Linked DNA regions of Homo sapiens. The protein of the gene in region 2 interacts with the protein of the main gene of each other region in a biochemical or structural test. Each region holds a gene or a part of one and is shown on either strand. Other genes may lie near its edges.

Region 1 (7,223 bases), on a different chromosome or scaffold from region 2:
GGAAGAAGGATTACTAGAGTGTGGCTGTTGCTGATTGGCTAATTTTCAGAAGCAAGTCACTGATCAGGAGATTGTTATTGATTGATTAAAACAGATTCTGGTTGTTTCTTGTCACTATGACCAAAGAACAATCAGTATCTTTTTGTTGCTCAATTTGGAATGAAGGAACTTGCCACTCTGTCTTACAAGGCCACTGGAAAGTCTTTGTCTTTTACTTTGAGAGAAATGAGGAGTTAATAGGGGATTTTTGAGCAGTGGAGTGACAGGATTTGACTTATATTTTCAGAGGATCTGAAATCTTGGCTGCTGTGTACCAGAGTGGAAGAGGGGAGACAAGTCACTGCAGTCACCCTGATGAGAGATGTATTAGGTTGTTGTTGCATTCCTGTAAAGAAATACCTGAGACTATGTAATTTATACAAAAAGAGGTTTAATTGGCTCACGGTTCTCCAGGCTGTATAGGAACCATAAGGCTGGCATCTGCTTCTGGGGAGGCCTCAGGAAGCTTCCAATCATGGTGGAAGGCAGAATGGGAGCAGGAACTTCACAAGGCAAAATCAGGAGCAAGAGGGAGAGGGGGAGGTGCTACACACTTTTAAACCACCACATCCCAAGAGAACTCACTCAGTATCTCGAGGACAGCATCCAGGGGATGATGCTCAACCATTCATGAGAAAGCTACCCCCATGATCCAATTATCTCCCACCAGGCCACACCTCCAACACCGGGGATTACATTTCAACATGAGATTTGGCTAGAACATCCAAATCCTTTCAGGAGATGTGACTTGAACCATGGTGGTAGTAGTATGGGCAATGAGAAGTGTTTTCTCCCTTTTTTTTTTTTGAGACAGAGTCTTGCTCTGTCACTCAGGCTGGAGTGCAGTGATGCAATCTCAGCTCACTGCAGCGTCCACTTCCCGGGTTCAAGTGATTCTCCCATCTCAGCCTCCTGAGTAGCTGGGACTACCAGCATGCAGCACCATGCCCAGATAATTTTTGTACTTTTTGTAGAGACAGGGTTTCACCATGTTGGCCAGGCGGGTCTCAAACTCCTGAGCTCAAGCAGTCCACCCTCCTCAGCCTCCCAAAATGCTTGGATTACAGGCATAAGCCACTGAGCCTGGCCTGTTTCCATTTTAGATATATGTACTTATAGCCAACAAATAAACAAGATAATCCAGTTAGGCTAAGGGTATTGGAGCAAATATCATATTTACTTTTACATAGAATAATATAGCTGGATGACAGGATAGAGAGTAACTGGGCGGGGCTACTTAAGAAGAAGGGATCAGGGAAGTCCCTCATTGAAGGGGCAAGACCTCAGTGATGAAAAGAAGCCAGTGAGGATCTTAAGGCTGGTGCGTGTGTGAGGAGCAATGCATAGGCCAGTGGGTCTAGAAGGTGGTGAGGTCAGGGTTGAGGAAGAGCCACAAGCCGGGTGGGAGAGGGAAGCTGAAGCCAGATCCTTCTAGGCCTCAGTGCATAGAATGGATTGAGAAGAGTGGAGCAAGAGAAGAATCAGGAAGGTGGAAGTGGAGACAATATTCTACTAGACCCTGTCCTCATGGGAATTTTACGAGACCTCATTGAAGTGATGAAGTAAAAACTGTGAAGTCTTCATGGGGCCAGGGATTCTGTTTCATTGTTTGCTTAATTATGACGCCTAGAGAAATGGCGATATGAACTAACTGGCAGCTGTGGTGTACAGACTCGAAATAAAGACACTCAATTACCTGTCTCTGACTTTGAATGCAAAGACTAGGTTAGCTGCAGTGTTTTTTCCAAGACTAAATTATGATCTTGGCCTTCCTCTTTCACCAAGTCATCAGAAAAGTGGTTAACATTTATTGGGGGCTTCCTGAAATAGATACAGAAGAAACAGAGAACACAGGTTGGTTGTTAAGGCAGGATGACCTAGGATCCAACTGCAGAGGGGATGTGGACCGGGTTCCATTTCTCCTAGAGTTCTGGCTCCTCAGGGTAAGGAGAGTGATTCATTCACCTTTGTAGCCCTTGGGCTCCTAGTACAATGCCTGCAGAATGTAGGAGCTGATATTACCTTTTAGTGGAATTTGAATTAAGCACATAGTTTAGATCCACAGTACTGAAATGATAAACTATTAACTCAGAAAAGTAGTCATCTTCGCATCTTTTGGTTCACCATCCAGAATTGGGAGAAGGATTAGTCATCTTTCTCCCAATTCTTTTTTTTTTTTTTTTTTCCTTTTTTGAGACAGAGTTTCATTCTTGTCGCCCAGGCTGGAGTGCAATGGCGCGATCTCAGCTCACCGCAACCTCCGCCTCCTGGGTTCAAGTGATTCTCCTGTCTCAGCCTCTCGAGTAGCTGGGATTACAGGCATGCGCCACCACGCCCGGCTAATTTTGTATTTTTTAGTACAGACGGGGTTTCTCCATGTTGGTCAGGCTGGTCTCGAATTCCTGACCTCAGGTGATCGGCCTGCCTTGGCTTCCCAAAGTGCTGGGATTACAGGCGTGAGCCACCATGCCCAGCCCCTTCTCCCAATTCTATTACTTTATATTTCCTGCCTTTGAACCTTTGAACACATCATTTCACTCCTTAATCTCCACTTTATGGGTAAGCATAGAGAAAGGGAGAAATTAAACTCAGGCCAATTTTTCCTTTTTTTTTTCTAAGCAAATAACACCTTTTAAATGTTTGATGGAGATTGAAGAAATTCATGCTATATAAAGATCTTAGGATAACTTTTTTTTTTTTTTTTTTTGAGATGGAGTCTTGCTCTGTCGCCTAGGCTGGAGTGCAATGGTGTGATCTCGGCTCACTGCAACCTCTGCCTCCCGGGTTCAAGCGATTCTCCTGCCTCAGCCTCCTGAGTAGTTGGGATTACAGGCGCCCACCACCACGCCCGGCTAATTTTTGTATTTTTAGTAGAGACGGGGTTTCGCCATGTTGGTCAGGCTGGTCTCGAACTCCTGACCTCAGGTGATCGGCCTGCTTCGGCCTCCCAAAGTGCTGGGATAACTTTTTTTTTTTAAAGGGCTTTCTATGTATACATTATCCCAAACAACCCTGAGAAGCAGACATTTGGCCAAGATCACAAGCCTGTAAGAAGGGGAGTTGGAATTCAAGTCAGGTTGTCTGATGACAGTGGCATTGCTACTTACTCCTCTTGTCACAATTTGGGGCTTTCATTTGTCTTTTCTTCCATACTTGCCGCAGAAATGTTTAAATACTCTGAGAAACAGTAGGAACTCTATAAATAAAAGATCTCTGTATTTTTACATAATCAAAGCTGGAGAGTTTAATGTGGTGCAGGCCACTCGGTTAGTGGAAGCAGAGGGCATGCCATCCCCAGCTCCGGTTGCAGTGAGTGGATCCAGTGTTGGATTACCCACCTCTGGGATGGTCACTGCTAAGCGAAGCTGAACTCAGGACTGCAGTTTGAGAAAGACAGCGAAGGAGCTTGGCTGCACAGAGGCAAGAACGGGCCACGGATTCTTGCAGCCAAAATGTCATCTGGTTGGGAAAAGCCGCTTGTCAATCTGCAGCTACTAGAGGGGTGGGGGTGGGTGGAAAATGCAGCATCTTAAGTTCAAGATTCAGGGTGAAGGCTGGCTAGACTTAGCAGGGGTCTGCATCTTTAGATGAAATGTGAAAAACACCCAAGCTCAGGGACCAAATGACAGGGAGCGCTGTGCATGCGGCGACGCTAACAGGGACCCAAGGAAAGAAAACACGAGGCGCTGAAGGCGCTCCAGGAGGCCCCCGCCGTTCAGACCCTCCCGGTGGCTCGGGCGCGTCGTCCTAGGGGGCGGCTTCTGTCCTTGGTTTCCCCTTCTTAAAAATCCAGGCGCAGGCAGGCTGAGCTCAGGCGGCTGAGGCACCTCCACGTGGCGGGGGAAGGGGTGACAAAGAGAGGGACGCCCGAGAGATCCCGCTTCGCACAGGCCCGGGTCAGCACCGGGAAGGAGGCCCGCCTAGACCCGAACGGCGCGCCCGGGCAGGGCCCTGGAAGACCTCGCGCCTAGAGGAGCGGCATCCGGAGCGGCGCGGAGGCCTCACAGGAACGCGGGACTGGGCCGGGGGCGGGGCGGGGCCGGGGGCGGGGCGGGGCGGGGCGGGGCCGCGGCGGGCGGGCGCGCGGGCGGCGCGGAGGGAGGGTGTCGCGCCGAGGGAAGCGGCCCGCGGCGGAGGGAGGGGAGGCCGAGTCCTGGAAGCGGAGCTCCGCGCTGGGACTGGTTCCTTCGCAGCCATTTTCTGTCCAACCAAACAGCCGATTGGAGACGGGAGCCAACCAGGGCTGCATTGGAGGTTTGTGTCTCGCTTCGGCCAATGATCGCTCCTAAACCGACTCCACTTTAGCTCGAATGAAATGTCCGTCTCCTCCCGGCGCCGTCCCCGCCGCCAACGCCGCCGCGGCCGGGGGCACTAGCCTCCCGCCCTCCCGCGCGGGCCGAGGCCGGGCCCCGCGCCTGCGAGGCCGCTCCCGCAGCGGGCCGGGCCGGGGAGCGGGCGCGGGGCCGCGGCGCGGCTCTTTGTGCGCCGGGCTGAGGAGCGGCGGGACGCGGGCCAGGCCACCTCACCCTCGCCGCCGTTGAGCTCCGGGCCCGGGGCCGAGGAGGGGCCGCGGGGCTGCGTCGGGGCCCCGCTCTCGACGGCGTCCCGGGCCGGCTCCATTTTGTGCGGGGAGCCGGCCGAGGGGCGGGAGACGCGGCCCGGGCCCTGGCCCCGTAGCCCCGGCGGCGGCGCGAGTCCCCGGGGGCGCCCTCCTCCCGCCCGCGGGGCTGTGGCGGGGCCCGGCGCTTTGTCTGCCCGCACATCCCGGGGGCCGCGCGGCGGGTGGGAGGCAGGCGTTGGGCGCGGGGCCGGGGCGGCCGGGCGAGTCAGGGGATGCGCTCTGGGGGCGGCCTCCTGGCACTCGCAGGGCTGACAGGTCGCCGGGACCAGGCCGTGGGGCCGGGGCCACCCAGGCACCTGCGTGGGGAGGAAGGCATGGCTTTAGCTTCCCCGCAGCCTGGTTTGCGCGTAAAGAATGCAGCCATCTGGCGGTTTGCGGTCCCTGTACTTGCCCCGAAGGTGGGAAGGAAGCCCTTCGGATTGGACTAAGGTTTTAATCATTAGTGGTGGGAGGCGGGAGGATATGCAGGGCCTTAAAGAACGGTAGTCTTAGAGAACAAAGAATTACAGAGCACCCACAAATCGTAATCTCGCCCAAAGCACTCTAACAGGATAATTTAAACAAGGTTAGGTAGCCTGCGACCTTTAAAAAAATGGCATCCCACTAACCCGCATGGACCCCATAGTTGCGTGGTTCGTGCTACAAATCACTGGGGTGGTTTCATCTCTCTTAGTATGGAAACTAATCAGCAACATAAAGTGATGAAAGCAAACGGATCAATATCAGTGGCACTAATCAGTGGGGGGTTTATTTGTAAAGTATTGAAAGTTTAACCAAAATTCCTTAAAAGGCAAATTATTCCTTCCCTGCATTGCTCTTGTATCTTAATTTAAGGATTACTGTATATTGATGCAAAACTCTGGTTGTTGATGCCAAAGAATGGAGGGTGGAGGAAGGGACTACTGCTTTTCTTGGATACAAATTTGCATTTCTTAAAACATTAAACAGATGTATGCATTCCCTTGAGCTTTTACATATATCAACCTGCCCTTAAGAAAATATACACCATATGAGGTGACAGTGTTTTTCTTTAATGTACTGAGTCTAAATATATACTGAATCAACTATTTGGGTGAGTGAGTGTGGTGTGGTATGACTCCCTGCCCACACCCCCCTCTCCCATTCCAAGCAAAATACATAAATATAGCTCCCATGTTTTAAGTGTTCTGAGGGCTTATTTTTTCAAAGACACTCTTTAAAAAATAACATTTCTCGTTACAAGGAAGGACTTTTCTGAGCAGTTTTGGGGTTAGAGGATACTATTAATATTTGAAAAGAAATTATAAATTACTTTTAATATTATAGCAAACGTCAAGCAGTTTTTGCTACCTGGACCTTTTTAGTGGCATTAAAAACTTTCAATTCAGTGGCTACAATTTTTTCTGCTATTTGCTAGATTTCATGCTTGGATGCGTATCAGTATATCTTCTCCCTTTAAAATTAACACTGAAAGGATGTGTTTTTGTTTTGGCATCCTACCCCTCCCCCATTTAATTGTTTCCTTTGAGAAAGAATGGAGCAAATGAGAAATGAAACTTGTAACACAGCAATTGGTACTAATTTGTTCAGCTATTTATGCCTTACAGTGAGACTGAAGTGCTATTTCGATGCAATTTTAGTCAAAAATGGTGGTGCTTCAAAATTATAAATAAGGGTCTTGATTGTGTTGCTTTTTTGATATCTTCTCAGTGCAGAATGTATCTTCATTACAGTATAATCTGAGATTCTTAATTGAAAAGCATTATATTCTCAGATAATTTTTTCCTCCTCTTGAGCTATAGAATGTCTAAATGTTACTCTGAAACATTTAAGAAAACCATCACCAAAAAATTAAGATGATAAGGGGTGTGTTTGCATCTTGAGTGTTAATGTTTTAAGTAATTTAGATGTATAATTTTTGGTCTCTTGCATATTATATAATTTGGTCCCTTTTTGGTGTATTGTAATGAATGTTTATGATGAATATGGCTAAATTCAGGGTTATGTTGGAAAATCCATTTTCTCCTTTCCCCATGGAATTAACTTGTTTTTAAGTTCTCCAAAATAAATCTTTCAAGTCAACAAACATTTATTGGGTGCCTTTTTATACTATTTTATACCATGTACTCCATTGATTAAGAATAGTAGTCAAAATTATACAAGCCCTCTTTAATTTTATGAGAAAAAAAGCCTATAAGTGATACATTTGATGTATTTTTACTATTGATAGATGTTAGGTCCTAATAGATGTTTATCTTTTAGGTTGAAATCACAAAGATTAGACACCTTTTTAGATAGGTGTTCTTCAGCACCACTGACAACACGGTTCTGACAGTATTTCATGACAGTAAGTATATTTTACCATTTTGGTTGTTAATTAGATTTGAATAGTAATTGGCTGGAAATAAAATTGTAACCAATTTATACTGGAGGTGCCTGGTAGAATGAATGCATTTCAAGTCTAGACAGACAGTACCTCTGCTCATTCCTGTTGCTTCCTTATTTTCAGCTTCTTGCATATATTATTTCCCATGGGTCCCTAAGTGCTGTTGAGGCTACAGGGTAGCCTGTCCCAGCTGTAAAG
Region 2 (7,459 bases):
TCCAAGGCCATAAGGCACTGCTGTTTGCTGCCCTTCTTTTTAACAAGGTTCACAAGAGTTTCTACAAACTGAAGTGTGTGAACGGCATCATCCTGAATAAGAAGAATCATGGCTGCCATCCTGTCACCTAGTGTCCCCGATGACACAATTGCCTTCATCCAGGTAGAAGAGGCTCCCTTTTGACTATTCGTCTTACTTTTGAATAAGTTGATTTCATGCTGATACAGCTTCTGAGCAAGGGTTTTGTACTTAGATACAACATCCTGAGGCTGGGGTTTCAAAGAATATTCATTGCTGTACTCCAGATCATACCATTTGCCTCCAGGCCTAAGTAACAAAGTCTGTCTCTCAAAAAATTCAAAGATGTTCTGTTTATCTTTCTTTACTTTCGGTGTGGTACTGCCATTCTCATCAGAATGTGGTTCTGGCCTATTCTTATTTTTCACCTTATTAACTGATGTCCTTTGACTTTCTGCTGTATTTTTATTATTTATTTTAGGTATTTTTACTTCTTTTTTGCTGGAATTTTCTTTTTCAGCTGGTTCATCTTCTTCAACTAAGGAAGCTTTTGTATACTTCGCCAAATTAAGATTTTGAATAAATGCTTCCAATTCACCTTGCTGAAGGTCATCGATTGCTCCTTTTTTGCCTCCATCTATCACTTCCTCATTCTCATCCAAAGTAGCCAGCATAAGGTAATCTTGCTGCATTAAAAACATAAGTTAAAAATACATTACAAATGTGAAAAATAAAACCATAAAATAATAGGAAACACAACATAATTTTAAAAATAATTTCGGAACTGGAAAAATCCTTTCAAATTTGACATAAAACTCAGGGTCCACAAAGGAAAGGATAAGTAAATTTCTCTTTCTCTCTCTTTCTTTTACACACACACACACGCACACACACTTTTTATTTCGATATAGGAAAAAAATATAAATTATAAACTGGAAAAAAAATACAAGCAATTCCTATCAAAGTAATTGGGTTTAATCCCTTAATATAAGTTTCTACACATCAGTAAGTGACAACCCAAAAGAAAAATGTGCAAAGGACATGAACAGTTCATAGAAAAAAAGGGTTCTTTAAGAATATGAAAAGATGTTCAACCTCACTGAGGTTTAGACAAATCCACATTAAAACCACAATGATACATCCATCTTTTAATTTATCAGATGAGCAAAGATACACTGCAAGATGAGCAAGATACAATGACAGGTGATGCTGGGGAAGGGGTGGCGGAAACGGCACTTTCATACATGGTTGATGTGAGTGTAAACTGACACAACCTCCATGGAGGACAATTTGTCAACTCCAATCACAACTATTTAATACAAGGCACACATCTGTTGGCCCAGCAGCTTCATTTCTAAAAATTAACTAACTGATTGAGACATGGTCTCGCTCTGTTGTCCAGGCTTGAGTACAGTGGCATGACCATGGCTGAACTGCAGCCTCAACCTCCCAGGCTGAAGTGATCCTCCAACCTCAGCCTGTAGCTGGCACTACACGCCCAGCTATTTAAAAAAAAAATTTTTTTTTGAGATGAGGTCTCCTTATGTTGCCCAGGCTGGTCTCAAACTCCTGGACTCAAGGTATCCTCCCACCTCTGACTCCCAAAGTGCTGGGATTATGGGTGTGAGCCACTGTGCCTGGCTCATTTCTACAAATTTATACTACATATACACTTACAAAAGTGGGGGAAAAACACGATTAAGGTTATTAACTGTAGTATTATTTAAAATAGTGAAAGACTGGCAATAATTTAAATATTCACAATAAATGGCTGGTTAGATAAATTAAGACAGACAAAATGATTTATGCAGCCATAGCAATGACACAGAACGTTATGCACTGATATAGAAGGATTTCTAAGACAGAAAAGAAAGCAAAATGTAGAGATAGGTGTATATATATGGTACCATTTATGTAAAAAAGATACACCCGTATTTCATACACATAAATGAGTATGTATATGCTTGAAAAGGTATATAGTATCCCTGAAAGATATAAAATGCAGTTGTAAAAATAATTGCTTCCTATCAGGGCAATGGTTATGGCTGAGATAAAAGTGGAAACAATTTGACTTCACTATGTATCTTTTAAAGTTTGCACCACGTGTTTCATGTGTATATATTACCTATTCAAAACTTAAATATACACAAGCACAGAGCAAACTGTGAATCTGCCTATCTCTAACTAACTCCTCCACCTTGAAAGTCCAGTCTCCAAACAAAATAATATTAAAAACAAAGTTAATTTCTGTTCCTTATCTGCTTAAAATCTTCCAGTGGTTTTGCATCAAACTCAGAGCAAAAGCCTGCCCTCTGACCCCTCGGCCCTCCTTTCTTACTATTCTCCCCTTAACTCACTCTGCCTCTGCTACACTGGCATTTTGGCTGCTCATGGAATAGGTTAGGCACTCTTCTGCCTGTCTTTGCATTTGCTGTTCCAACTGACTGGAATGGCAGCTCACTCCTTCCTGTCCTTTAGGATTCTGCTCAAACATTTCCGTGATGTGTTTGTCGATCATCTCATTTAATACTAACGCGCTCCCACTCCTTATCGTCCTTCCTTGTTTTATTTTCTTTTATAGCACTACCCCGCGTCTGCTGTACTATGTGTTTAAAAGTTTGTTTACTGTTTCTCTCCCTTAATTAGGATGCTCCAAAAAAGAGGGCTTCTGGGGCATACAGTGACACGTGCATGTACTCTATGAGAACAGAAATGAAAATTCCAATACCACTGGTGTTCAAAACACTCATACCACAAGGTCAGGACCAAGAAAAGCCACTCTCCGACCTGATGGTGTGATGGTTATACCACGTCAATAAAATCAGAAGATCGCCTACATCCTAAGAATAGCCAGAGAATACAACGTTCAATTCGAAACTTTTCTTTTGTAAACAGCAGTGGAAACCGGCGTGGGAAGCGCACCGAACACATGCTTCAGAGGCTGGGATCTCGGTCCTGGACGCCCGCGCTCTACGCAGCGCGGAAGCGGCGGGGCAGTCAGCCTAGCCACCTTCGGAACTCTCCACGCCTGATCCCGTTCCCCGGAGCCCGCGGCCGTTACCTTGGTGCCTCCGAGCCGTAACACTTCCTCCAGGGAGAACCCATTCTCGGCTTCACTAGTATTATCCTCATCCTCCTCGTCCGGATCTTCTACTGCCTCCTCGGGGCGCCAAGGCCGCTTGGCATGGAACTCCAAAGGCTCCTTGACTGCGGCCATGGCGGGCAAAGCATACGCGCGTGAAACTCAGCCTATTTCCGCTCTGCCAGTGGCGTAATTCCTGTCGGGGCGTGTCTTCTCCCGGAAATGGTCTAAGCCCCAGCTCCTGGCGGAGCGAGCTAGCCTGCGAATTTCAGCATGAGTGTACTGCTGAGGTCAGGTTTGGGGCCGTTGTGTGCCGTGGCGCGCGCAGGTAAGCGTCAGTCCCCTCGAAGCCCGGTTGCCGTGGAAGCCGCGTGGGGCGCCTTCCTCAGCTCTTCAGTTGAGGGTACCGGGGGATCAAGGGCTCGGGGGCTCACTTCCACCTTGAAGGTACCCTGGGCTGGAAACGGGTCCGGTACAAACGCAATAGGGCTGCGTAGTCGTGGGCAAGTGGGTGCTGTCTCTGCGCCCCGTGGGCGTGCTAAGCACAGTAGCCCGCGGTCTGCGGTGGGGCGAGGTTAAGGGTTCACGAAGCTGTTTTGAAAACGCTCAGGCGGCTTGCGCTCGTGAATGGTCAGATTTATCATGGGGTCTGTTTAATTTGTGTTTTTCGCAGCCATTCCTTTTATTTGGAGAGGGAAATACTTCAGCTCCGGGAATGAGCCTGCAGAAAACCCGGTGACGCCGATGCTGCGGCATCTTATGTACAAAATAAAGTCTACTGGTCCCATCACTGTGGCCGAGTACATGAAGGAGGTGTTGACTAATCCAGCCAAGGTATGGGTCGGGTAGCCCGAGGACTAGGCCCTCTCTAGCCGATTTGCGAGGTGCAAGCCAGGAGGGAGAAGCCCGAAGGTTCTCAGCCCAGGCAGTGGGGGTGCCTGCCAGGGGAAGAGCCATTTCTGAGGACCTGGGGACAGATAATTTGTCAGTTGGTCAGGGCTGGCTCACGTCAGAGGCAGTGCCAGTAAAGAGGAGAGGACACGGTCCAAGGGTGTTTAGGAGACAGAATGTAGCTGATTGGATTTATGATGCGGGAAGGATGACTTTCCTACTTGGCTGATGGTGGGTGGTGTGGATTCATTGCTTTGGGAGAAGGAATACGGGAGGAAGGATGGAGAGTTCAGGCTGGTATATGAATTTGAAGTGTGTGGGACTCTTAGGTAGAAATCTCCAACAGGCAGCTGGAAATAGGAATTACTGCCTGGAAAGTCGTCTGTGTTGGAATGGCTTCAGCTGGCATTGGAGACATGTGCTGGGTTTTCTCACATGTGCAGTTGAGAATGCAGTCTGGGTCGTCTTCACTGTTCTAGGATTAGGCACAGTCACAGCTTTCTGACCCACGTTTCCTTGTCTGTTCTACAGAGCCATTTGGTGAAAGCCTATAGTCCTTTATTTTAGAATATTTCATCTTTTGCTGGGTTGAAATATGACCTCTGTGGAATTCTGGGGTTAGATTGGCCATTGTTGTTGGATATGGTAGTGTGACTCTAGTGTCGAGGTTTACCCAAGGCCGGTATCTTTCTTTCGATGCCGGTTAGGCAGGGCTGCAAGATAGGTGGCTTAGACTAGTGTGGTGGTACTAGAAATAGAAGAGGGTGATTTAGAAAGGGACTGACAGGATTTGCCGATGGATTGAGTGATGGAACGGAGGAATCAAGGCTGATTCGTACTTTTAGCTTGAGCAGTTGGGTGATGATGGTACCTTTTATTGAGATTAAGACAGACAGGACCAGGTTTGGAGGAGTACTAGGGAGAGGGCCTACACCAGGAGCTGCATTTTATACATATTTTGTTAGCAGTGACATGCAGGTGGAGATAGAAAGTAGGCAATTCGCTGTAAGAGTCTGGCGTTCAGGGCCGGACGTGGCGGCTCACGCCTGTAATCCCAGCACTTTGGGAGGCCAAGGCGGGTGGATCACGAGGTCAGGAGTTTGAGACCAGCCTGACCAACTTGGTGAAACCCCGTCTCTATTAAAAATACAAAAATTAGCCGGGCGTGGTGGCTTGTGCCTGTAATCCCAGCTAGTCAGGAGGCAGGAGAATCGCTTGAACCCGGGACGCAGAGGTTGCAGTGAGCCTAGATTTCGCCATTGCACTCCAGCCTGGGCAACAGAGCGAGACTCTGTCTCAAAAAAAAAAAAAAAAAAAGTGAGCCTGGTGTTCAGAAGAAAGACTGGGCAGGCATATATACATTTGCTCGTCATCAGCATATAGGTCATATTTAAAGCCAAGGAACCAGGGAGAACATACTGAGAGAAAGGAAGGTTTCCCAGCATTGAGAGTAGGGGTAACTCTAAAATGTAGAGGCTCTTAACCTAGGGACCCTTTAATAGAAATCAGGGGTTTCATGAAGCTGGATGGAAAAAATATTATACCTTTATTTTCACTAACTTTCAACTGAAATTTAGCATTTCTTCAATTATGAACATACGCAGCAACTAGTAGCATCAGCAATACCTGTGACTTTGTCATCTGTGGAAATCATTGGTATTTCCTTATCACAATACAGTGATCACAGGCATCTCAGGATTTCATCGTGCTCATCCTTACTTCAAAATTTTGTTAATTATTGGGTCTTTGGCTTGATTATGGGCTTTTTTGTTTGTTGGCTTTTTGAGATAGAGTCTCATTCTGTCACCCAGGCTGGAGTGCAGTAGTGCAATCTTGGCTCACTGCAACCTCCACCTTCAAGGTTCAAAGGATTCTTGTGCCTCAGCCTCCCGAGTAGTTGGGATTACAGGTGTATGTTTCCATGCCCAGCTAGGTTTTTTGTATTTTCAATGGAGATCGGGTTTTGCCTTGTTGGCCAGGCTGGTCTTGAACTCCTGGCCTCATATGATCCGCCTGTCTCAGCCTCCTAAAGTGTTGGGATTACAGGTGTGAGCCACTGTGCGCGGCCTAATTATATTTTTTTAATACACTAGTAAAGAAGTGTATATATCACATTTTTTAGAACATTTGATACACATTTTTCAGTTATTTCTTTGTGGTTCTGTGCATTTAAAAACACTCTGTGAAGGGGTCTATAGGCATCACTGGGCTACCACAGTGGTTCATAACACAAAAAAGCGTAAATACCCCAATAATGTTTCCTTATGAACGGAACTAGAAAGCCTAGAAGAAGAGATGTGTGGATTGAAAAAATGTTCTCAAAAATGGGAGTGACTTGATTTATTTTGAATGCTGAAGGGGGAAAGTTGAAGCTGGAAGAGAGAAGGGGACAGCTAAAAGGACTCAGGGGAGTTGTATGAGGAATGGTCCAGAGCACAGGCGGAGGGATTAGGTTTGGATGAGAGGAGAAGGGGAAGGCATTTCATTCTTGGAGTCCCCAGATTAGGTTAGAGGCCAGGTGGGGATGGGAAGCTGAGGAATTCGTATTTTATAACATTCTTTAATTCTGGAGTGAGACTGGGGCCCATGTCACCTGTAGTAAGGTGGTAGAATAGGAGCTTGAGAAGCATAAGAAATATTTAACTCAATTCTTGAGTGTTTCTTGAAGGTTAGGCATCGTGCTAAAACTTGGGATATGAAGATAAATAAGGCATGATCTTCTGCAAACAACTATACTTTGTGGTGAAGAACAGAGACAAATTAGCTCAGAAAAGGTGGCACTGGATTTGGCCTTAGGTTGGAGGGCTGGAGGAGGTCAGCTAGGTGGCATTTGAGCAGATTCGGAGGTTGAGTATAAGACTGCCAGGGAAAGTTGAAAAGGGAGAAGGGTGAGGATTTGCAGTGGCATGGATGTCTGGACAAGCAAGGCTAATAAGAAAAAAAAAAACAACCCTTTTTCTGGAGATATAATATTCATATAGAAAAGTTCATAAACCACAAGTTTACAGCTCAATGAATTTTCACAAAGCAAATGCTCCCATGTAACCAGCACCCAAATCAAGAAACAGAACATCACCAGCAGGCAGGGCCCATATGTGAGGCAGAAAGTGTTAGAATTTGGAGAGGAGGCTGGAGGAGTAGGCAGGGTCTTGCTGTGTTGGGTGTGGGAGCTGGGAGGGGAGGAAGGGTCTGGCGTGCAGAGATGGACGTTACATGACTTCTGCCTTTACGGTCAAGGTGTAATTGTTTTTCTACCGGTTTTGTAAAATGACTGTTACTTTGTAAAATTTGGGTAAAGACACCATATTTCCCTTGCTTATTTATTTATTTATTTATTTATTTATTTTTTGAGATGGAGTCTCACTTTGTCACCTAGGCTGGAGTGCAGTGGCGCGATCTCGGCTTACTGCAAGCTCTGCCTCCGAGGTTCACGCCATTTTCCTGCCTCAGCCTCCCAAATAGCTGGGA

Evidence for each region. Proteins that work in one complex are often made in the same cells at the same time.
Region 1: the proteins of CEBPZ (region 2) and NFYB form a complex in vitro, tested with the Homo sapiens proteins (one study listed by BioGRID).

The regions. Positions count from the first base shown.
Region 1 is NC_000012.12:104,135,211-104,142,433, reverse strand, and holds the start of NFYB (nuclear transcription factor Y subunit beta), read left to right. Parts: upstream 1-4,223; 5' UTR 4,224-4,293; exon of another isoform or gene 4,294-5,225; intron 5,226-6,901; 5' UTR 6,902-6,980; coding exon 6,981-6,986; exon of another isoform or gene 6,987-6,990; intron 6,991-7,223. UniProt on the Homo sapiens protein: Component of the sequence-specific heterotrimeric transcription factor (NF-Y) which specifically recognizes a 5'-CCAAT-3' box motif found in the promoters of its target genes.
Region 2 is NC_000002.12:37,228,333-37,235,791, forward strand, and holds the start of CEBPZ (CCAAT/enhancer-binding protein zeta), read right to left. Parts: upstream 3,265-7,459; 5' UTR 3,236-3,264; coding exon 3,080-3,235; intron 705-3,079; coding exon 1-704. Other genes in the region: NDUFAF7 (protein arginine methyltransferase NDUFAF7, mitochondrial), read left to right, coding at 3,374-3,428, 3,774-3,934. UniProt on the Homo sapiens protein: Stimulates transcription from the HSP70 promoter.